4 linked regions of the Homo sapiens genome follow. The protein of the gene in region 4 purifies or fractionates together with the protein of the main gene of each other region. This does not show direct contact. Each region holds a gene or a part of one and is shown on either strand. Other genes may lie near its edges. The genes, in order: SRPRA, TTK, XPO7 and SLC39A9.

Region 1 (3,495 bases), on a different chromosome or scaffold from region 4:
ACTGACCGGCTGCAGCTCTGCATGAAGGACTCGGGGTCTGGATGCCATGGAATCACTGTGGCTCTTGTTGCAGTTTTGTACTCTATACTTGGTTTTTCAATTAAGCTTAATGGCTTTTTTAAAACATGACTTGAAGCTCTAGTTTTCTAGATCTTTTACAGTGTACAGTATTTTACATAACTAAGCTGTATTAAAAGCTTGTTCATTTACTTGCCAGGACCCTGGCTCTACTTTTAGAGTCATTGTAAGAAACTCTAACTTGCATCAAGGTACTAATAAGCTTAATTTTAATAACCCAAAGTTTAAAGGTTCCGATCTTTCTCCTTGGGGTGGAGTGATCTCATTCTCAGGACAACCGTTTACTTACCTGATTCCTCGGAGCATTATCAACTTCTGCTCTGTTGTCCTGACCATACATATGTCCTAGAACTACAGTTAAGTGTGTTGTGGAATTTTAGTTTTGAATCCTGTATAAAAGAACTCCAAGACCTAAAAGGCAATTTATTTATGAAATTTATTTTCTTATATAAATTACTTATTTCTCTGGGCAGACAGCCTTCACCTTATTGCACTAATAGCACATCTGTAATATCAAGCTACAGGACAAGTCTTAACAAGAGGTTTGTGTTCTTCAATGTAGCACTTGTCTACCAGGCACTGTAGAGGGGAGTGATGAGGAAAAGCCAGGACTGCTTAGGAGGTGAAGGATGGGAGGGGAGGGGGTCATCATACATCCTTCTGACAATTGGTTTCCTCCCAGGAAGGGGAACATGCAGAGCTTACTTCTGGATTCTGGGAGTGGGAAGAGTTGGGAGGCCAAGAAGCCCAATGCAACGCTGCAGCTGAGCTCCTTTTATTTCTGAGGGAAGCAAGGACTCATCTTTTGCTCATTTGTAACAAATCACTCCAGCCTAGCTGATGCTTTGGGGTAAACAATGGAGTAGGAGTCATCATCAGAATTAGAATTAGCAGCAATTAACAGGCAATACACTGCCACAGTGAGGCGGGTGTCATCCAGGTCCTGGGGACCTGCAGGCTGTGTATCCTAGGGAGAGGTGCCATTCAAGACCTGGCGCTGGCTCTGGAAGAGTCTCTTAACCTAATGCAGCTGGGACTCATTAGGCTCAGACGGCTCTTGACCACACTAATTATTAGCAAAGCTCTGGTGTTGGGTTCCAACCATTGGTCAAAGCTGTAATAAGACTGAGTCTGTAGGCAGAGTGAAGGGGGTGCCTGAGTAGGAAGGGGGAGGCCCGCTGGGAGAGGGTCAGTGGGCAGTGATTGTAACATGATTAGGCCTTCCTTGCAGATGGCGGCTGTGCTGAACGGGGAGTGGGGTTGGAAGGAGCCACAAGCCCCCTCACTCTGCCTTTGTACTACACTGAAGACAGGTTGCTCACATACTCTAAAGCACATTCTTGATACAGGAAGAAGGGCTTGTGGGGAAAGCGGCGATTTGGTATTGGGCAAGAGCCACGTTAAGCCTTCATGAGGGCAGCCACCACAGCCTTGGCATTGAGGCTGCGTAGGTCACAGTAGGTCTGGCCGGTGCCCACAAAGACGATGGGTTTGCTTGTGATGTACGTCATAGAAATAGCAGCTCCCACCTAAGTGGAGAAAGAGGACAGCCCATCAACACAAGCCCACTTTTCACTCACCCTCTCAGGAACAGGAAGCGCTGGAGCCAAGATTTCCTTGCAGCCTCAGCTCCTTTGTGCAGGACGCCCATTCCAGCCTCCAGTCTCACGTTTACCTTGTCATCAATGGTATCAAATTTGGTAAGAACAATGCCATCAATGAGCCGAGGTGTCTGAGCCATAGAATGGTCAGCCAAGGCTCTGTTGAACTTGACCTGGAAAGAAAAAGTGATAGAAGTGTAAGAACCATCTAAATTGACCAAAGCTCAAGTTGTAAAGGGAACTGGGCCCACGCTCTCACCAGCTGGTCCACGGCTTCATTGCCTACTAAGGCTTCTCCTACAAACAGCACCAAATCAGGTGTATTGACAGTAATGAGTTTGGCCAGGGCAGTCATCAGAGGGGCATTGTCTTGCATGCGGCCTGCCGTGTCCACCAGCACCACGTCAAAGCCTTGGTTACGTGCTAGAGAAAGAAAGTAGTCAACTCTGAACACCTGGACTACCACTCATGCTCGTTCCCAGCTTCCTCTCAAAAAGTCCTAGTTTGACTACCTGTTCACTGTCTTGGGCTCTGGATTTGGTTCCAAGGTAATGTGAGAAAAACTTGATTATATGCTTGGCCATCACCAAACATATTCAGGAAAAGGAGGACAACAGGATGAAGGTGACCAAATTCAGGTTTCTCTGGTTAAGGTATATTAGCTTTGCCTGCAACTACATCTGTTATCCAAAAGCAGAGCATGGCAAGTAACTGATCTGACTTTTTACTGTAATTGACCAACGAGTCTGTAGTAGCACAAGCCTGATCTTCTGCAAATTCCAAGAGAACCCAAGGAGAAAAAGGGACCCCAAATAAGCCCCCACACTTCCCATGCACTGTACCAAAAGCAATGGCTTCCATGGCAATGCCAGCAGCATCCTTGCCATAGCCCTTTTCAAACAACTGCACCATGGTGCGGCCACCATGCTTCTCTGGAGGGTGTAGGGCACTCAAACGCCGGGTGTGTGTACGCAGCTGCTCCACGGCCCCAGCACGAAATGTATCACAGGCAGCAATGAGGACACTGAAGCCATTCTCTAACAACCAGAAGGAAATCTGTGAAAAAGACGTAAGAAAAGTCACCTAAAGCCAGGATTTTGAGACACAAGAAGTACAGAAATATCAGCGATAGGCTGGGGAACTGCACTGACCTTGGCAAGATTAGTAGATTTCCCCACTCCATTAACGCCGCAGAAGGTGACGACATAAGGGCGCTGGCGACGCTGGGCATCCATGATGTCCCGGAGCATGTCTACACGACGCTGTGGCTGCAGAATCTGCACCAGGGACTCCTGTAGGGCTTGCTTTACTGTGGAAGTCACCGCTGAAAGGGGAGGTGGAGGAGGTTGCAGCTGTGAAACTCAAGGAATGCTCTCAAAAATGCCTAACACCTTTCTGAGCTAAGGGGACTAAAACAGTAAATTAGACTCTTGTCCCAGAAATCCAGAACAGACGCACATTACAAGGACTAACTCACTGAATCCTCTCAATAACCCTTAAAATCTAGGTTACAGAGGTTTAGAGGTTAAGGAATTTGCCGAAAGTCACATACCTAGTAAGAACTGAGGTCTATGCACTTAACCTACACATAAGCACTTTCTCACTTAGGTAAGTACTTACTGCTGAACGTCCCCATCACCTTCCCTTCCAACTTGTTGGCAACAGATTCACAGAGCTGGACGGCAATGTCTGCAGCCACGTTCTTAGCTGAGGAGAGGGGGACAGGTATGTCAGTTCCATGTCAGCAATGACCAATCTTTATGGTACAGGTGAGAAACGCTAGGTGATTCTGCTCTCAACTACCCCTATCCCGCGA
Region 2 (7,037 bases), on a different chromosome or scaffold from region 4:
AGTCTGCTTTCTTAAGCTATCAAGTGGTTTTCTTAACTAAACATACAAGTCTACTGATTTTGTTACTCTTACCTTCTAATTTAGCTAGAAGACTTGATTCCGTTTTATTCTTCAGGGTTATTGAATCAGTAATAATAAGTTCAGAACTCTTTTCATCTGACACCAGAGGTTCCTTGAAATGACTATTTTGAACAGACTACATGAAAAAGAAAATCAAATAAAGTCCCATAAATAGTAGTACTACTAATCTGTCTTACTGTTCAATATACTAAAGTCTTATCTATACATGGATTGCTCATAAAATTTTCTATTATAATTATATGTAGACTCACAAACCCCCAGCAAAGGTTAACTGCCTGAATTATTAATTAGAGAAATGGGAAGGGTCATAACCATAAATCTGGCCAATTTGCTTTCAGTGGATGTATTAATCAATTGCTAAAATATATTTCACTTAAAGATGGAAAGGGTTAGAAAGTTTGAATTCAACATAGAGTATGCCTCATGACAAGAAAAAAGATTTAAGTATTTTGTTACTGTGATGGCTATTTTATCACCAAAAATAAGTCAAAACTAGTAACTGCATAACTTAAGAGAGTAGTTACTCTAAATCCAGAGAACAATCTTTTTGACACAATTATGCACTGTTCTCTAGGACAGCCAGGATTAGGAAAAATTAATACTTAAAGCATAGGTCATGAAAGAGGGAGGCATTACAAAGAACATAAAATTGAAAAGACCCACATCATGATGCCAGGGGTTTAACTCAATTATAATAATAGTATAACCACTAAAAATCACAGTGTACCAGGAACTAAAATTATTTCCTTTAAGTCCACACAAAGTTGCTCTGCCATGTCAGGAGGTCAGGATTATTTATGTCCTCACCTCTGCCCTAACTCAATTTACTCTCTCATTTTTTTTTAAGATGTCTTACCAAAATCATATGATTAAACATAACAAAAAACAAAACTTGGGGGCAACAGTTCCCCCAGTCACGTATTCCCAAACCCAGGCCAACTATCTGCTTAAACACGTGCATAATAAATATTACTTCATGATTCTCTTAAAAGATTGTTGATCCTTGCTCTACCACCTTAATCTTGGAGAAACATAGTCTAGGACTTCTGCACCAACTTCCCACTCGTAGTCCCACAGCTCTTGGGGTATGTGGAACACTGTTGGAGATACATGAACTATTTATAAACCCTTTCCCCAGAAAAAGCTCCATGAATACTGATCCTCCCAGATCAGGAACCCTTGCTTTATATAATGATATAGAATTAAAATACCTTTAAATTTCTTAATTCACAGGAATCATTTCCACTTGGTTTAGATCCAGGCACAACCAAATCTCGGCATTCTGATCTAGAGGTTTGTCTTTTACCCGTGAAACAAAATAATTTTAACATTAAATTTGAAAAAAAAAATTTTCAATGTATTTTTTCATCTCAAGTTGGATTTTTAATAATATACATACTTTTTATTGAAAAAAATCTCTTAAAAAGACATTTTTTAGAGTGACATAATTCCAATACAAAAGTGACTTAGCTAACAAAATTACGTGCTGGGCAATGACAAAAGTGACACAGGTGATCGCCTACTTCTTCATTATCTAATCAGTAACAATTGGAGTTAGGGTTAGACTGTGGGAAAGGCAAAGTATACAGATGAAACTACATTTCCAATTACAAATAGCTAAAGGATAAGAACCAGGGTATAGCACTTCTGTGGACCTCCACAGTACCTAGCATTGTCTATCGATAACAGGAACCAAGAAAATGGCTGCAGTTTTTCTGTTTTTGTTTTTAATTTTTTGGAGCGGAAGAAAATCTCCTTTATTCTTGAGCTAGGTATTTGAAATAGAGATGAACAAGATGAAATCATAGTGATAAGACTTTAAAGCTTAACCTTGACAAACAAAATGTTCTTTTAATGTCAATATTTAGTCAAGTCTAAATATAATAGAAATGTAATTATAAAAGATAGTAATGAAAAACAATCGTATTTCTAAAGTTTATTTGCAAAATGATTCTCTGGACTGTAAGGAGCCTTTTCCAATATAAATATTACAAATGTTGGTCAGAATTAAGAATAGGCCAAAATAACTCTCCTTTAGCTGAGCTACAGGCTACATTCCCATTTCTTAACAGGGAATAAACAAGCAAATTGAGGGAAGGAGAACACACTGGATGTGATGAACAGTAATTCATCTGTACCTAACCTGTCCCACTTCTTGAAGCACTAGACTCAAGCAAAAGAATAATCATCTATCCCACTGACAGCGATTCTCCCCTTGAACTATCTGGAGCAAATATTTGTTCCCAGACCTCCTTCTACCCGTTATGGAGACTCTCAAACAAAACAGGAAGAGATTCTTAGCAGACAGCCTACCCGTAAGTGACAAATCCTCAAATATCAGTCTTTTAAGCTTAATGTTGACTTAATATTTTTTCCTTTTAAAGCTCCTTTAATGAATATTTTTAATGAGTGAAAAAGCAAAACAAAGTTATTTTCTCCACTCATTCCTTTGTTCCTGACAACATTTAGAGATTATCTTCTAAAACTGAATAAAAATTTAATCATAATTACTATTACTCAGTAAAAGACTTTAAGACCATTCTGCCATTAATCTTCCCATACGGACAACAAATTTTAAAAATTAAAACTCAACATACCTTTTCATAAAACAAGGTACAACTGAATCATCTGTCTTCACATCACAATCTGGGCTATTTAGAAGGTTAACTGGGACTCTTCCAAATGGGCATGACTAAAAATATTTTGAAAGATTAAATAACCAACTAGGAAATAAAGACTATCACCACCTTAATCAAGCAGATTGAAAGTAACTTACCTGTTTAGTTTTGTTAGTTTGTCTCAATGAATTCCGGTAACCTATTTCTGCATCTTGTGGTGGCATGTTCTCTCTAAACAGAAAGAAAATACCCCCAATTTTTCAAAGAACAATATTAATATGTATTTCTACTCTACTGCTAAACATTATCACACACATGAAAACATATATGCAGATACATGTAATTACATTAAAAAACACAGATGTACTTACATAGAAGATGAACATTTAAAAACTGTTTCCGTTTCCTTACCCATATAAAAACCTGGCTTTAGTAGTCTGTCCTCTGGAATCACAACTGTTGTTCCTATTCTGTAAATGCCCAAGTGAACCGGAAAATGATTCTTGGGCAGTTAATACCGTAGATGCTGTAAAAATTTTGAAACTATGATTAAATTTATAAGAAATAAGACAAGTACAAAAAAGTGATCTTACAAATAAGAATATTTTAAAAGTCAATTCATAGGAAATACTTGTCCCCAAGTAAGATATGCAGACATGAAGATGATACCAAGATAATTATCTAACTACTTCTTCAAATTCTCTTAAATTATATAACTATTTCCCCAGGGTAAAAGCACATTCTCTATTTCCAAAAGCAAAAAAAAAAAAATTCTCTTGCTTAGAGTTGTTTTTCATGTGTTAACGAAAGTTTAGTTAGCAAAAAAGACAAATTTGCATGGGGTTGTAGAGACTTTTTTACTTCTCAGTCTTACCTCCTTTACAATTTAATCTTAGATTTTAACCATTCTACATAAATAATATTTTTCTATAAATTATTATCCCGAATCTTTATTTGAAGTACTACCTACCACAGAAAGTATTAGTATACCTTAATAGTTACCTGATAAATTCTTCTTTTCCTCCTCTGAAAGCAGCTGCTTTTTTTGGAGGTTTAAATTCCGCAGGGCAATTTCCAGCATTTCTAGTGGTACTGCTCCACGTTCTACAGCTTTTTGAAGAAGTTGTTTACTTTTTTTGACATTACCTAACAAAGCAAAAGATAATTGTCATTTTTAGGCAGTAAAATGCCCACCACCCAGACCACCCAGATACGTATTCATCAGGACCTAGAAAAAAAAATCAAAAAGACTTAAGCAAAAATATTTATTCCAAGGCTCATGTATTTTATTTCATAGGCAAGTAAGCAATCTCTCACTTTTTATGCAGATAACCAACTCTCTTCTGATAACAATGCATACCAAATAGTTTCCTTGCAATATGTAGCTGACGTAATTTTGCATTAGTTTATCACCACTGTCCACTTTCAGAAGTAACAGAAGTGTAACAAAGCAGTTACCAACAGGGGACAGCAAAGGCCAATCACAACAGTTAGAAACAGGAGGGCATTCTAGATGTTACAAAAGTGCCAAGAGCATCAGTCTCTTACAACATGCTATAATAAGTATCATTCATAATGACATTTAGTTAAGGGAAGGATGACATCTTTTGTTAAAGAGCATCTTCCATCAAAAGGATTTTCGGGGAAAAACATAATAAATACAGATTAATCTTTAGCTGTCACACTCAGCTATACCAGCCTGAAAAAGAATGCAGAATAACTGAGGAACTATCATAATTACCTTTCTGAGTATGGACAGATTACCAAAAAAATTGGTAAACTTACCCCTAGCATTTGACATATAAATATTAAATGTATACATCACATATCTTACAGAATATTATCAACATTTATGGGAGCCATTGAGCTATGCTATGCACTTGGTACTTAGCGTATAAAAATGCTTAAGAGATGATCTCTAGCTTCTGGTAGTTTATAAATTTTTAAAAATATCTTTGATAGTGCTTACATCTACATTTACTAAGTAGTGGTAGAATTTCATGTATTGTGTATTTTAGCACAAGAAAAGAGAGAAAGGCTTAAGAAGCTTAATTAATCAGATAGCTTAGTATTGAGATCAGAGATTTCTTTAAGAATCTGGTAAAAACTGAAATGTCCTCCATCCCTATAAAAATACTCACACACCAGACTCTGCATAGGACTTCAGGGATGCTGCATTATTTCCTGACAGCCAAGCCATCAACTGTGCTCAAAATAATCATAATTTGACCACACTGCATTACTGTGCAATGCATTTGACCACATTGCATCACTGTGCATTACTACCACATTGCAGATAAAGTGGTATAGATAAAGTTCGTCTTTTTTACAGATAACTCAATTTAAGAGTTTCAATATTTACATGTTCTAAACATGTAAAATTTATGGTTGTTATTGAGAGGCCACAATACCTCAAGAAATTTTCAAGCAGAATGGAGAGAAAGAAGCCTTGCCAAATTTTCTCTAACAAGCAAGGAGGAATCCATTTTTCTAGAGAAGAAAGGGATAATAGTTCTAAAAAGTAACCTGATAGAGCAAAGGACATATTGGAGAAGACAATTACTAGGACTCAGAAATCATCTGAATGGGTAACAATTCAGGGTTCTCAAATTATTTCTGAGTCATATAATTATTTTCTCCAGGCTCAATCCTGGGGAATACTCTCCAGTGACCAATCCCTGCTATGGAAACCATCATGGGGATTCTTCCAATAGTGTTAATATGTTTATCACTGGCAGTAAATTGGATCACAGTTGTAGCAGAAACAAGGCAGTGGGAGAATGGAAACACCTGGCCAGAGGGCAGACTGAGGGTGTATCCAAAGGCCCTGGAAAATGAGAAAAGACTAAGGAATGGCCAGGTTAAAAATGTCTTAGGAAGAGATTGTCTTGGTCCTACCCAAAAAAATCCAGACTATGAAGAACCAAGTGAGCAAGAAATAGTTTCTACAGCAGTTTACTTTTTTATTTTAAAGAACTACCAATTAACGCTACACACACACACACACACACACACACACACACACACACAGATATATAGTTTACTTGACCACCAAGTTACATAGCTACACTTTAATGTACATTTTGGTGCTATGAAACCATAGCATAAGAAAAGTTTATGTAAGCTCTAGATATTTAAAGCTCTAGCTTAAATATCTGATATCCTTCTTCCTACAAATACTCAGTGAAGCAGCTACTTTCCTTTAGATGTTTCCTGAATCTAACTAGTAGCACATACACAATGTTCATGCTCATTTCCCTGGATTACTCTTTATACATGGAAAAGCTAGTATAACAGATATTCTCTGCATTTACATTTAGGTGGCATTTTCTCCCCATATTCTCATCTGATCAACTTTAATGTCTTTTGCCTCAAATTTCCACTTCATATATATGATTTAATATTAGGAAGTAAGTTGTAATAAGTTATCCTTTACTTAAAATTTGAATTTGACATTTTCAGATTACCTTGTGACAGTTCAAATTGTGCAAAAGATATATGAACAAAAGCAAATTTCTTGCAGTTTGCTCTGGCCATTTGAAAGTAGTCACGTGCATCATCTGGCTCTTGAATACTGTAATAAAAGATTTGAGTCAAAATTTAAGAAAAAGAACATAGCTACTTAAATTTGATAATGCTTCATTCAATTTTCCAAAAAACATGGGATATTGCTTTTTTCTGTGGGTAAAATTAAATACTAATAAGTTATTTTAAAAAAATCTTTTTAGGCAGTTTAAAATAAGTAAACTGTTGTGGAAACGTGCATAGAAAAGAGTTTACATTAGTCTCTTGTTAACTATAAGCAAAAGTATTTGGTAAAAAAATTAATATTTTCTCACAATACTGCCATGTTTTTTATTTTCTCTCTTTGCAGTGTAGTTACATATTATGTAACATAGTTGAACATAGTTAAAATGCTAATACTTACGCTTTTAATTCAGCAAATCTCACTTGAATTCTAGCAAAACTCTCATTTTGGCCATATTTATCTGGGGGAAGCGCTTCAATTGCTTGACTGTAACGACCAATCAATTTATTTAAAAGAGCATCACTTAGCGGAACACTGTTTTTCTCTAGTTTGAGCAACAAACTCAACCAGTCCTCTGGGTTGTTTGCCATCATCATAATTTGGTTAACAGTTCCCGAGTTATCTAAATAAGGGGAACAAAATATATCACAAGAAAAGACATAAAACAAATGCCAAATTGCATTTTTCCTTCAAAATATAGTCAAACATTTGTACTGTCAGTATCAATGTACATAAAGTCCTTATAATACTTTTTAAAATTGTAAAAGTTCATATAAATACAAGTAACTTATTTATCGTGTATTTATCTT
Region 3 (7,037 bases), on a different chromosome or scaffold from region 4:
ATAGTGCTAGCTGGTGTTCAGGAGCTCGAGAGGAAAAGGAAGGAAAGAATATGATTTATATATCGAATATGCTATTTAATATGAATTATATTAGTTTTACCATAAATAATGGAAATGAAGACTGATTCCAGGATTTTGCTGGAATTACTACGTTGTTGTGTTGGGTCTTATTATTTACTGGGCTTTGCATTATGACTGTACTAGGAGAATGTACTATTTGCAAAGTAGTCATAGTTTGTTTTAAATTCCAGGCACAGTAATTAAATATTGACTACCAGTGTAACTCCAGGGAGTTGTGAAGAATCATTACAACTTGTCAGGTTAAATTTTAGCAGGGTGCAAAAAGTCGGCCTGATTATAGCAAAAGTGATGGTTGTTTTTTCAGCTTTTAACAATATGCAAGGAAATGATAAGTGCTATGGGTAGTCCATTTTGAAAAGGGAGTTCCGTACAACTTTTGAGAATTTTAAATGGAAAAAACATAACTTTTCTAACTTTTTTCCAGTTCGACTAATACCAGAATGCTTAGTGTGTGCAAGGCCCTTTCTGTGCTGGGCACTTCAGAGGATTCAGAATGAGAAAGACACTGGAGCCAGACTGCTGAAATATCCAATTCTGATGCTCTTTTGGCAGGCTTCAGGAGCACACACGTAGATACAAGAAAGAATACATTGATTTCAAAACATGCTACATCTGTGTTGGGTGATAAGCAATAACTATATCCCATCACCCACTCCCACCCTGATTATACCTCTTTCGTGGGTTTATACAAATAATATGTGTGTATTTTATTTCATTATTTTACTCCTATTCAACACCACACTGGAAATGTCTGTATTTAAAACATATATATCTATATATTTACTTGATTACTCTGACTTTAGTATATTTCCTGAGAAGCCTTGAGAAAAATTAAGGGATGTATATATACGTGTGGGATCATTCAAACACTTAACACAGAAAAAACAAAATACAGTACAGTGATGGAAGAATCTCTAATTTAGATGAAGGTATAGAAAGAAGTATCAGGAAGATCCCTGTTCTATATCTTACAGAGAAATTAGCTTCCATTTGACCCAGAAATTGATGTTCATAACCACCAGCTGTATTTTCTTTTTTCTTGGTTGGGTTTTGAAAGCAATATTGTACCACAGCCTTTCGAGGTGGGAAAGTTGCCAGTTTAAACCAATAAGCTAATGTCTCTCTGTAGGTACAACTACTGAGGCTACTTTGCCCACTTCAGTATGTGCAAGGAAGATAGTGTTTTGAAACTGCATCTTTTTAAAACACCTAACATTATCTCACATTTTCTCAGGGTTAGGAATCTGGGAGTGGCTTAACTAGATGGTTTTGGTTCAGGGTCTCATTTGCAGTCAAACTCTCAGCTGGGGCTCCGGGCTGCAGTCAATCTCAGGGCTTGACTTGAGGATAGAGAATTTTCTTTAGGTTTACACACAGCGGGCCTGGTCAGGCCTCAGTTCCTCACTGGCTGTTGTCTGGAGGCTGCAGTTCTTTACCAATGGGCCTCTCCTAGTGCATCATTTTTAAGGACTTCATTAAATTCTGTAATGATATATGCTGTGTATAAGTGACCCATCTTTGTTATTTTTTTCAAAAACTTTTTATTGAAATATATACCTGCAGACAGGTACAGAAATCATATGTGTTCAGCTTGATGAATTTTCACAAAGTGAATACTCCTTACTAACCAGCACCCAAATCAAGTCAGTATTATCGGTGCCCCAGAAGTCCCCTGATACCATCTCAACAGCTACCTGTAGCCCCCCTCCCCCCCCCACCCCACTAACTACTATCCTGTCATTTTATTTTTAAATCTGCTTTTAGAACTCAAGCTGAGTAACCTGAGAGTTTTAGCTTCAAAGCCAGGGGGAGAAGCAGTACAGAGCAGTGATTATACAGCTTTGGGGGGATTTATTTCATAATATGATGGAAGCTATGTTACTGCTCTCTGGTGGGGGTGGGGAGAGTGTGCCTACACAAAATTTTACCCACAATTTTAGGCCATTCATGAACCTTGATAACTAGAGTTTAAATATATGTTTCTTTTTAGATGAAAATGCTCACAACATTTTATTGAGAAACTGATTTACAAGTATTTCTCTTTTGACTTATTTGAAAAGCAAGTTCAGGACCACGATAAATGTTCCTGGAGAGTTACATGCAAGCTGAATTTTTAAATATTGAAATAAATTCTTGAGGATGATTAATGGTGACCACTTAAGCATCTACTAATATCCCATTTTTGTTACTGTGCAGACACATAGAAGGAAATACAAGATGTGATATTCTACTTCCAGGGCCTTACATTGAATTGAGCATCACAACAAGCCTGGTCATTGAGTTGTGAATTTGTAGTGAGACTGGTTTTGTCGACATGTCCCTGAATGGGGGGCAGTCACTACCCCGTTATCTTTTCCCCCATTCCAATACATGTCTGGAATACATTCATTCCTAACATTTATAGTGACTCATTACTAGGAAATTCTCAATGGAATGGGATTGGTACCCAGGAGGCATATCAAAATCTTGGGGGAGGGAGAGAGTTGTAAAAAACCTAGATCCTAAGTATTTCTGATATTTGCTTCAATGGCTGTTCACCCCTTCGCACATGTGTGCATGCACACAAGGACACACACACACTCCTACTGCCATAAAATGGGAAGGATGTATTTAAGAGAAGGCAGAATTGGAAACTTCATGCTAGCATTAATTGATATCATTTAATGCTCACCGCAGCAATGTAACATCGGTATAGAGATAATAGTAATAGAATTTTCCTTGAAATAAGCTGATTAAAAGACCTGGTATCCCTGGAAGACTGGAGAACTCGCTGTTGGAAGATTTAGATGATGTTCATGGTGGTGGTTATTGTAAGACTTACTGGAGTGTGACTTGGTTGGTCATAGGGAAAGGGGGATACCAGTATTAACTGAGTGTCTGTTATATGCCAGGCACCATGCTAAGCCTTTTATAGTGTTATGCCATTTAATTGGGAAACTCGTTTGGTCTCTGAGCCTGGATTAAGTGATCTGTGAAGTCCCTTGTACTTCAAGCATTCTGGATGGGATTTCCAGTTGTCATCCTTGTATTCTCTCCCCAATATAGCACCGTGTTCTCAATTCATATGTACATGTTTGTAAAATTCCTTAAAATATTTATGCTCAAACCAACATTTCCATTTTATCTATCTTAAATATATCTTCCTCTTCTTTACGCCTAATTTCTTAAACTCCCAGAGTTTTTTTCTGTAAGATCTAGTCATCTGTAGCACTTCTCACAAATTGAGCTCTCTTATGCCCCAAACAGTAACGAAAGAGGTCTCTTAGTTGGACAATAAGCAGTGAAAGATATTTCTTATGGGACAAGAAATTAACATTATTAGTCAAATGTTGATGCCGGTAGGCTGAGAAATGATTCTCACTTAAAAGCCCCTGGGTTTTAAACCTCTCTTAGAAAAACATTAGTTAGATGAAAAAAAAAATCAAAATATTTTCCTCTGGAAAACAATGTTCCTCTGAAAACAAGCAGATTATTAAAATATCCCTTGTACTACTTCAGGAAATTGTAATCTTATAACTGTAGTGGCCTTTTAGCTTTTAAATATATGAACTTGAGTTGGACACATGCTGATCTCATTGGTACTTTGCATGATAAGAAATTATGATATTTACAATGTGCAGTCTCAGAAAGAACTGAGAGTTTTGCTAGACATTTGCCCTAAAGTTTGAGTCAATTTATGGTTTAAAGGGGTGTATTTAAGGCTAGAAAAGGGAAATGAAGGGTTTTCTTAGGATTTTTTCCAATTCTATTTAAAATTGTTTGCAAAGTTTTGAAAGCATATGTCATGAGTTTGGCAAAAATTATTTCAAAGCTTGTTTTTTTTTTAACCTCATTCACCTCTGCTAACTCCTGAACTTCAGTGCTTTACTTCTGTCTTCCAAAAAGACGTTGTCTAAAATTAGTCATGAAATTTAACTTAACTGTAAGAACTTGAAACATAAAGTTTGCTCTGAAAAAGATCTGGGAAACCTGATGTATATTTCACATATCAATACATCTGTTGATGTATTGATAAAATCTATACATCTCAGTTGAAAAAAAATCTAAATTTTGCCCAATATATAGCCACAAATTATTTAGAATGTAATGTTCGTGTTAGTAGGTGATATTTTTGTCTTCAGCTTGTCATTGACCCATCTAAGGATCCCTGCGAGGTCTTGTCAAAAACTAGCCTGGGGCATACCCAAGAATTTTAAAGATTAAATAAAACTTACTGGAAAATGTGACCTTGTTTTCCTTAGTCTTAATATTTTGAACTGATAATGTTCCAGAACTGAGCAACTTTCTTCAGGCCTTCATAAAACCAAATTAAATTGTTTTTAGGTGAATTGAACCTGAGCAACAGGGAGTATTTAAGGACAGGCCAGGCAGGGGCACACATGCTTGTAGTCCCAGCTACTGGGGGGGAGGCTAAGCTGGGAGGATCACTTGGGTACAGGAGTTCAAGTCCAGCCTGGGTAACATAGCAAGACCCCAAGTCTTTTAAAAAAAATTAATTAATTAATTTAAATTAAATTCAAATAAAATAAGGACATTATCCCACAGGTGTTACAAATGAAAATTTGTTGTAATGTAAAGGATTATTTACTAGTTCTTGGAATTCTACAGTTAGCCACACTCCATACAGGGAGAGCAGAATGTTGTGAGCAAGAAGTTTTAATTTCACAGAATTCCTAAAACCTGTCCATTCAGAGCTGTTTGGTTTAGGTTACTGTTAATGTACCCTAGAGGTTCCCAAAGGCACATTTCGTGTTAACATTGATAGCATTGATAGGGTGAGACTTAAAAAAAACCAACCTTTTTTTTTTTTTTTTTTTTTCTTAAGATGGAGTTTTGCTCTTGTTGCCCAGGCTGGAGTGCAGTGGCGCAATCTCGGCTCACGGCAACCTCTGCCTCCCGGGTTCAAGCAGTTCTCCTGCCTCAGCCTCCCAAGTAGCTGGGATTACAGGCATGCACCACCACGCCCAGCTAATTTTGTATTTTTAGTAGAGACGGAGTTTCTCCATGTTGGTCCGACTGGTCTTGAGCTCCCGACCTCAGGTGATCCTCCTGTCTCGGCCTCCCAAAGTGCTGGGATTACAGGCGTGAGCCACCGCACCTGGCTGACCCAACTTCTTATCTATTCCTCCCATACCCGTCCCCTCAAATGTAAACAGCACTCACAAAAGTGGATATTTGGTTCATAGAGATTACTGTTGTGTAAATCTGTTGCCAGTGGAATAAAATCTTTCCTTTTTACTAAAATTTTATTCGTACAGTAAACTGCATCCATTTAAAGTGTACAAATTGACAGATACATACACCTGTGACTCCGGGATCAAAATATGGAACATTTCCTCTTTGCAGTCTGTTCCTCCCTCAGCTCTCAGACCCACACAACCCTGTTCTGCTTTCTGTCACTATAAATTAGTTTGCATTTTCTGGAATTTTATATAATGGACTTACTGTATACTCTTGTTTTCTGACTTCTTTCACTCAGCATAGTAACTCTGAGATTGATTCTCATTGTTGCATAGTAGGAGTGCTTGGTTACTTTTCATTGTTGCCAAGTATTCCGTTGTATGAATATATCACATTGGATGTATCCATTCACTCTTTGGGAGACATTCAGGTTGTTCCCAGTTTTTAGTCATTGTGAATAAAGATGCTGTGAATATTCATATACCAGTCTCTGTATGGATGTACATTTTTATTTCTCTTGAGTACCTGGGAGTAGGATGGCTGAGTCTTATTGTGTATGTTTACATTTTTAAAGAAACTGTCAATTTTCCAAAATGACTGTACCTCGAGTTATTTCATAACTTCGCCAACATTTAGTATTGTCATTCTTTTTGCCTTTCTAGTAGGATCTTGTGTTTTTAGTTTGTACTTCTTTGATGACTAACATGTTGAGTATCTCTTCATGTGCTTACTGACATTTGTATATCTCAGGCTTGCAAACCAGGCTGGTGTTTTGGCCTGACAGCCTGTTTTTGTATGGCCTGCACCCTGAGAATAGCTTTTACATTTTAAATGGTTGAAAACATCTAAAAGAATAATACTCCATGTTGCATGATAATTATATGAAATTCTGATTTCACTGTTCGTAAATAAGTTTTATTGGAACATGCATTCATCTATGTATCCCGTATGGCTATTTTTGTACCACAGTGGCAGAGCTGAATAGTCTTGACAGACATTTTGGCCTAAAATATTTACTTTCTGGCCCTTTAGAGAAAACATTTGCAGACTTCTGGTAGATCTTCTTTGGTGATGTGTCCCTTCAAATCTATTGCCTGACTTTTGGGTGGAGGACGTACCAGCCCAGTATGTTTCTAACCCAAGCCCAGTTTGACAGGAACTGCATCAAGTTCTTCAGTTGTACCAACCACATTTCAAGTGCTCAGTAGCCACATGAGGCTAATAGCTACCATATTGCATAGTGCAGATATAAAATATTTCCACTCTCATGGAAATTTCTATTGGACAGTGCTACTCTAGAATAAACTTGCCGCTGAACCAAAGGGATTAGAAGCAAAGTGGAACATAGGTTATAGGATTGCTTTCCTGGATGTCGATAAAAATAAGCTAGATCCTCGTCCTCTCAGATGTGTGTGAATGCAAATGGATATATTTTGTTATCCATGTATGTCCTGTTCTCTTGGCCAAGTGATGAGAGGAAGCAGTTAACTCATAAAAGAAATTCAGAATTTTACTGATAGGAAATAGTGTTTTAAGGGGAAAAAAACAAGTGTTAACTTATCATCTGCCAAAGCATTTTGCAAAGAACAAACCTTCTAAAATTCCCATATAGTTGTAACTGTTTTACAGATGAGATGGAGAATATGAAGGGAGATAGTAAACCATGAAATCACTTTTTCCTGGTGCTAAGTCCTGATTCACTAGCAATCGTAGTTCTCTTCAGCTTCTAATTTTAAAGTATTATTTACCATAAAGTTTTTCATAATAGCATGAGT
Region 4 (7,340 bases):
CATCTGACCGTCAATTTAAGAAAGCCACAAATGACATGACATACTAATTATCTGTATTAATGACCCAGTTATTAACACCACTCCTGTAAACATTTCCTTCTAGTGAAAAAGGAAATAGTATATATCCGCATATTGCAATAATCATTCAAGGTAGTTTGAAAAAATACTGGAATTGGTAAAGTTAAAGGCATTTTATAGAAATAAAAAGTTTTACTGGTTGCTTATCAGAATTAATTATGATTATTCATAAATGTTACTTCAATATGTTTAAAAATACACAAACCAACCCAAATCTCACACATGTCAGCCCTACTAATGTCAATTCAATTCTAATATAGTTATAAGAAAATATGGTTATGTCAAAGGAAACATAGCAGGTTCACAAAGTACTGGGCAGGCAGGTAACCCAAATAAGTGAAACAGGCTTCAAGGGCAAGGAGGACTGTGCCTAACAGCTGCTACTCAGCCCGACCCAACCTTTGCCTCTAGGAAATACTGGTAAAGAACAACAATAATAAACTTCTGCTAATGGAACAGTCTGCAGGCTGGATTTGGCACACAGGCTACCATGTATATGTACCATGTACCTTTGCCGAAATGCTTAGTGGCTACGAACTAGTCTGAGTCAGAAAAGCTAGACTGAAAAAATACCTCTCTTCTGATTCTAACAAACTTCATGAACCTATCCAGTCTCCGTTTCCTCATCTATATGTCACTGATTTTTATTTTCTTTTTTTTTTTTTTTAAGAGAAAGAGTCTCAATGTTGCCCAGGCCAACTCCTGGGTTCAAGCAATCCTCCTACCTTATCCTCTTGAGTAGCTAGGACTACAGGCGCGCCCCACCGCACCCAGCTTGAGTTTTTTAAGTGAAGTTAGGTAATGCACGTAATTTTTTAAAATGCTATCATTAGATGCTGAGGGGTACAGATTAAAAAGGAAACAGAAAAAGAACAACAACAATTTAAGCATCTGTTCCATCTGGCTATGGGCTTTACTTTTCCTCAAACTGACAACACCTTGTCCCACCTTCTTTCCCACCCACAGGCTATTTTCACCTGTAATGTCTCCTCTTCCTCAGGTTTCTTCAAGGTGTACTTAATATTTCATTTATACCTTTCCTTTCTACTTCAGGCCTCCTTTGAAAGTACTTTCAGGAATGGCACTGAAACTAGGGCCTATTTTACTGCTGAACTCTAGGACAAACTCATGAAATCTTGTTCCCTTTGAATGTAGTAGTTTTTCCCCCCTAAATCTTTGAACGCTGTGCACTTCGTGAATTCCTTTTGCCTACCTAAAGGACCTATCAGCATGTTCACTGAACAGTGCTTTCATCTATCCCTCTTCCCGGGACCCTCGCTTAACATCTGTTCAAGGTGCCAATCAAATTAACGAAAATGTCAAAACGTATTAACCAAAAATTCATTGCTAAGCAAATAGATTTGAAACAACTTCAGAATATCAATTCCAAGGCTCCCCTTCTTTAAAAGGAAATGTGAGTTAAGAACAATCTTAGTTTTTTCTTACATTCATTCTAGTACAGACATCCAAAAAACAAAACAGCTTTCCTCAGAAAGGTGTGTTTGACTTTCTCAAAAGGAAGTTATCATATTGATTTCAGTTCATGTAGAAAAATAACATTCTCCATTTCTTTTTTTTTCTTTTTTGGAGACAGGATCTCACTCTGCTGTCCAGGCTGGAGTGCAGTGGCCCAAACACGGCTCACTGCAGCCTCAACCACTTGGGGTCAAGCGATCCTCCTGCCTCAGCCTCATTTGTAGGGACAAAGTCCCGCCACGTTGCCCAGGCTGGTCTAGAACTCCTGGGCCCAAGCGATCCTTCCACCTCAGCCTCCCAAAGTGCTGAGATTACAGGCGTGAGCCACCGCGCCCAGCCCTCCATTTATTTTCTTGATAACAATCTGGAATCTTGATTCCATGAAACCTCTGAGAATCAAAAGAAATGTTATGGTGCCTCTCTCCAGGTAAATGCACAGAACCTCAAATTTTTGTAAGCAATTCTAGGGGATTCAGAATACTCCAGGATCTTCCGTGGAATATCTATCCACCCCAGGTTAAGAATTCCACTAATGAATATGAGGTTTCTTTCTATTATTAAGTGTCATGTATCTTTTAAAAAAGATAGTCTTTCTTAATGAGACCTTCAGCTTTGAGATTTAACTAGGGAAGCAGCTTCCCTTTGCAACTAAAACTACTATCTCACAGCCATCCTGACAGCTGACAGAAAATTGAGAATTTCTTACCTCTGAGAAATTAACAGCCAAGGGAATGATTCCGGCCACGTAACATCCCACCAACATAGCCAGAGACAGCAGGCTAATGGAGATGAAATCATCCATTCTGCCCTCCTTTATTCACCCACAACCACTAGACAACAAATTTCCAGTGGCTTTAAATGGTGCTTAGGTTCTTTAAACAGGTGTGGTGGTTCCAAGAGAGTGGGCTTTCCAGTTCTTTAGGCCTTCCCACCAGCAGATGTGTTCACGAGGCACCTTCCTCTTGAACGTACCCGGCAACAGACCCTTTTTGCTGATATTAGCACCAGAGAAAGCTTACAGCAATCTAAGGTCCCAGGCTCTGGGTTCTCAGATGCCAGTCATTAGATTCTCGTGGGTTAACAGAGATGGGAAAAGTCAATGGGGAAAATGTGCGAATGATCGATTTCTTCGATTGTCGGATTGAGGGTGGCACAATGTCTTAGGCGGCGGCGGGTAAGTGACTCAAGCGAACCTGTTCGTTCCCTAGGCGCCCCTGTCTCCAAGAGGCGGCCCCGAAGGTGATCCGCCCCCCAGAGCAGGAAACCAGCCCACCAGTCCCAGCAAACTCTCCTCCGAGCCTGGGATGAGGAAAGGAGTCCTGCAGGTCTCTAACGATGGGTCCTAGGGGTTCAGCAGCAAAGTTGACACAAAGCTGTCTCTGCCCTATACCCGGTGCTGCCCATGGTACTGCACTCGACCGGGCCTTGACCCGGAGTCGCCGATACTACAGCTGCCATGGCCGCCAAGTGGCATCTCTTCATTCCATCCACTTCCGGATTGTCTAACCACCCCCTCCTTTACAAAGGCACTTCCGGGTTACAACCGACCTCCGGCCCAGGATACTTACGTTGCCGCCATTTTTGAGTAGGGCTAATGAAAGATGTCTGATGTCACTGTCTATACCGGTGATCACTTGAGCCGTATGTTTAATAACGAAAGTACGGAAGACAGCGTCTTGAAAAAAAATAATTCTTCCTAAAGCTTGGAAACTTTCCCTTACCTTTTTGCCTTTATCGAAGATGGCTGAAACAGAGTCAGTAGCTGCTCTAGCTGCCGGAAGTGACTGTGCCTCTATGATCCAAAAGGCTCTTTTGCGTTGCACTTTCGACGACTTCCGGCGGCTCCTCTCGCGAGGATTGGCTGTTAGCGGCGTTGTAGTTAAGCTCGTGTAACGGCGGCGGTGTCGGCAGCTGCTGTAGCGAAGAGAGTTTGGCGCGATGGTGAGAAAGGCCTCCGCGGCTACCCGAGTCCGAGTCCCCGGCCTCCAGAGCGACCCCAGCCCCATACGTTTTCCCCTCCCCACGAGCCCCATGCAGCGCCGCGTGATGCTCCCCGCCACTCTAGTCGGTGGATTGACCCTTCTTCCCGCCGCAGGGACGCCAGGCCTGACTCTAGGCCTCGGAGCCCCGGTCCGCCCTGCGGTTGCGCGCCCGCCTGCTCGCTCGGGTCCGGCGTGCCTTGGGCCTGAGGATGAACTCTCTCCCGATTGTTACTCGGTAGAGGGAGACGTGGGGGAGGTGTTTTGTTTTTTGAGATAGAGAGTCTCACTCTATCGCCCAGGCTGGAGTGCAGTGGCGGGATCTCAGACCCCTGCAACCTCTGCCTCCTGGGTTGAAGCAATTCTCCTGTCTCAGCCTCCCTAGTAGCTGGGATTACAGGCGCCCGCCACCTCGCTCGGCTAATTTTTTTATTTTAGCAGAGACGGCGTTTCACCATGTTGGCCAGGCTGGTCTCGAACTCCTGACCTCAAGCAATCCACCCGCCTCGGCATCCCAAAGTGCTGGGATTACAGGCGTGAGCCACCGGGCCCTGCCGGATATGGTATTTTTCCCTCCAAATGCTCTAGCCTGCTGTAGGAACAATGGGCCAGGGTTGTCTAACTATTCTCGAAGCTGACAGATCCAGCTATACCCAGCATGTGGGCCAGGAGAGGACGTATTTGCTTTGCAGTGTTTTTTCAGCTTTCGTTTTCCTGTGCTCTGCCTTTTTTTTTTTTTTCCTGTTTTTGAGACCTCTAGGTATTGCGTGTGGCGCGTCCCTCAGCCCTCGATCCTGTACTTATCTGTATTTATATCCTCTTGGGGCTGGAGGCTGAAAAGTAGGCTCAGCTCAGAGACCAGCTCTATTAGAACCCAACCGGGATGATCAGTAAGCTCCAATTCGAAGAAAGTGACCAAAACTGGCTTGAGAGGTGGTATAATCTGTAAAGAATTTGAGCAGGAAAGCATTGCCATTTAAAAATGATAACCACTTGACCACAGTTTTTAAAATGTATCATGTTATGTTCTTAGTGATTTTTAATCCTTGTCTTTGGGCAGTAAGTACTGAAAATAGTAAACTTTGCCCGGTGTTCATTTTAAGACTAGATATAAAAAGCAACATGCTGTATAGCTTTTTCCATTCTTACCCTTTCAAATTAGTCCTTTAATTTGCATTAGAATTGGAATACAATTATTATAGTAGCAGTTGAGATAGCTAGTGTATAGGGCAACCTCTGTTGCAAGAATGCACGTGGTTTCTACAAAATTATTTTTTCTTAAATGACTCGTTGAAACTTTTTGAGTAGCTAGCTTACAAAGACTTCTGTATAACAAATAATCTAATATGATGCTTTCTGTGGCTTTTAAATCGATTTAACAAAGGCTTTGACTGCTCAGGTTATTACAGGTGAGAGTTAATCCTTCGTCTCTTGTCACCAAGTTCCGTTTTTATGTCAAACCCTCTGAAACTTTTAGTCAAAGTGGTTTAGTTCTTGATGGGGAGAGAAGGGTATGATAACCCTTGGTTTTGCATGTCATGTTAAATGTACTATTTTTCCATTGTTTATTCAGAAAGTCTGGGCTTCAGCTATTTCTGTTCCAATTTGATGGTTAAAAATTCTGATCATTTTGTCCAGGCGCGGTGGCTCACGCCTGTAATCCCAGCACTTTGGGAGGCCGAGGCAGGCAGATCACCTGAGGTCGGGAGTTCAAGACCAGTCTGACCAACATGGAGAAACCCCATCTCTACTAAAAAGACAAAATTAGCCGAGCATGGTGGTGCATGCCTGTAATCCCAGCTACTTGGGAGGCTGAAGCAGAAGATTCGCTTGAACCCGGAAAGCAGAGGTTGCGGTGAGCTGAGATCGCGCCTTTGCGCTCCAGCCTGGGCAACAGGAACAAAACTGTCTCCAAAAAAAAATTATGTTATTCCAAAACAGTTTAGGGTTCCTGTTAGGAAATTTTTGTTTTCTGGTTTTTGGCTGAAAAATACTAGTACAGCAGAAGAGAAGGAAAAAGGTGAATAGTTTGATTTGGGACTGGATTTACAGTGGAGTTGCATCATACTTGCATTTAATTAACCTTACACATGTAGCAGAAAATTGGATGGGTCATATTTTCAACAGACCAGTGAATTCTCAGCTGGATGAGATTTTTTGCTCCCCAAGGGACATTTGTAACAAAGAATCAGTCAACCCAAAAGGTAATAGAGCCCACGTTGAGAAAACACTGAGATTGATTTGTTAGTGACTGATCACTAACAAAAACATGTTTCCCAGTGAGCACGAAGTGGAAGACAAGTCTGTCTGCTATGGGCATTATTTCACATTTCTCATAGTGTGATGACCTAACTTTCTGTGTGATTCTAATATGTGATTTTGGTATGAGAAAGCCCAGTAAGGCAAGTCATCTACTAGGTGAATAGTTTAATGGATTTTTAAGGGTAATTCTTATGATATGTTTATATTGCTAATTTATCTACTGCTTTAATGTTAAGTCTAACCCCTGGATAAAATGTGACTTTGCTCTTACGCTGAGGTTGGAAAAAAAGCTTAAGTTGAAACCATGCTTGTGATTATTATACTATTTCCCCTTTTGTTTCCTTTCATCAGCCCATCTGAGTTTTTATTAGTGACTTAAGAGCATTAAAGATGGAAAGTGACCACTGGAGACAGAAAACCTAAGCAGGTTTATAATTTAGTTGGGAAGAAAAGATAGAAAAGGAAAAGGAGGGCAAGGTAGCTTATACTGATTACTTGTAGGCAGTAAGTACGGTAGGACTGGGAGACTTAGGGAGACCGTACAGCAGAGTTGTGAATCCAGCTAGATACTATACTTAGACTAAGACATCAATATTTTTGTGGGAAAAGTATCCTAATGACTTTTTTTTTTCTTTTAAGAGATAGGGCCTCACTCTCCGATGCAATGGTGTGATCATGGCACACTGCAGTCTCAGCCTCCTGGGCTCAAGGAATCCTCCTGCCTTAGACTTCCAAAGTGCTGGGACTACAGGCATGCACCCGGCAAATTTTATTTTTTTGTAGAGACAGGGTCTTGCTATGTTGCCCAGGTTGGTCTCAAGCTTCTGGCCTCAAGTGATTTTCCCCCTCTCAGCCTCCCAGAGGATGAGGATTATAGGCATGGGATGCCATGCCTGGCCTCTCTAATTACATTTTAATAACTAGCAATCATTATTGCATTACAAATGGGGATTTTTTTTTATCATACTATGAATTTCTCAAATAGAAACTTATATTGAAATCATGTTTTCCCCTGCAGTCTCACACCATTTTGCTGGTACAGCCTACCAAGAGGCCAGAAGGCAGAACTTATGCTGACTACGAATCTGTGAATGAATGCATGGAAGGTGAGTTTAACACTAATCAAGGGGTAGAAAAATGTCTCATTTAGGAACTGGGTTTTTCCCCTCCAAATTTTTTTTTTTTAATAGTCCATCCACCCCAGGCCCTGCCTTTATCACTTCCAACCCTCCAAATTTATTGAATTGCTAATTTTAGGAGGGAAAGCAGATATTTAGGATGGACCATAATTATTGAACATTTTATTTATTTGTTTGTTTATTTATGTATTATTTGAGACAGAGTCTCGCTCTATCACCCAGACTGGAGTGCAGTAATGCGATCTCGGCTTACGCAACCTCCGCCCCCCAGGTTCAAGTGATTCTCTTGTGCCTCAGCCTCCCAAGTAGCTGGGACTACAGGCATGGGCCACCACACCCAGATAATTTTTTGTGTATTTAGTAGAGATGGGGTTTCACCATGTTGGCCAGGCTGGTCTCGAGCTCC

What was found.
Region 1: the proteins of SLC39A9 (region 4) and SRPRA purify together in Homo sapiens (affinity purification with mass spectrometry; 2 studies listed by BioGRID and IntAct, with this or other methods). This does not show direct contact.
Region 2: the proteins of SLC39A9 (region 4) and TTK purify together in Homo sapiens (affinity purification with mass spectrometry; 3 studies listed by BioGRID and IntAct, with this or other methods). This does not show direct contact.
Region 3: the proteins of SLC39A9 (region 4) and XPO7 purify together in Homo sapiens (affinity purification with mass spectrometry; 3 studies listed by BioGRID and IntAct, with this or other methods). This does not show direct contact.

What each region holds. Positions count from the first base shown.
Region 1 is NC_000011.10:126,262,438-126,265,932, forward strand, and holds the end of SRPRA (signal recognition particle receptor subunit alpha), read right to left. Parts: intron 3,387-3,495; coding exon 3,300-3,386; intron 3,004-3,299; coding exon 2,831-3,003; intron 2,736-2,830; coding exon 2,522-2,735; intron 2,103-2,521; coding exon 1,939-2,102; intron 1,853-1,938; coding exon 1,754-1,852; coding exon of another isoform or gene 1,659-1,753; intron 1,608-1,658; coding exon 1,479-1,607; 3' UTR 501-1,478; downstream 1-500. UniProt on the Homo sapiens protein: Component of the signal recognition particle (SRP) complex receptor (SR). Ensures, in conjunction with the SRP complex, the correct targeting of the nascent secretory proteins to the endoplasmic reticulum membrane system.
Region 2 is NC_000006.12:80,007,622-80,014,658, reverse strand, and holds part of TTK (dual specificity protein kinase TTK), read right to left. Parts: intron 6,851-7,037; coding exon 6,628-6,850; intron 6,274-6,627; coding exon 6,167-6,273; intron 3,846-6,166; coding exon 3,702-3,845; intron 3,226-3,701; coding exon 3,111-3,225; intron 2,931-3,110; coding exon 2,858-2,930; intron 2,774-2,857; coding exon 2,679-2,773; intron 1,381-2,678; coding exon 1,293-1,380; intron 197-1,292; coding exon 73-196; intron 1-72.
Region 3 is NC_000008.11:21,922,660-21,929,696, forward strand, and holds part of XPO7 (exportin-7), read left to right. Parts: intron 1-7,037.
Region 4 is NC_000014.9:69,394,386-69,401,725, reverse strand, and holds the start of SLC39A9 (zinc transporter ZIP9), read right to left. Parts: upstream 3,035-7,340; 5' UTR 2,357-3,034; coding exon 2,261-2,356; intron 1-2,260. Other genes in the region: ERH (enhancer of rudimentary homolog), read left to right, coding at 3,493-3,495, 6,814-6,901. UniProt on the Homo sapiens protein: Transports zinc ions across cell and organelle membranes into the cytoplasm and regulates intracellular zinc homeostasis. Participates in the zinc ions efflux out of the secretory compartments.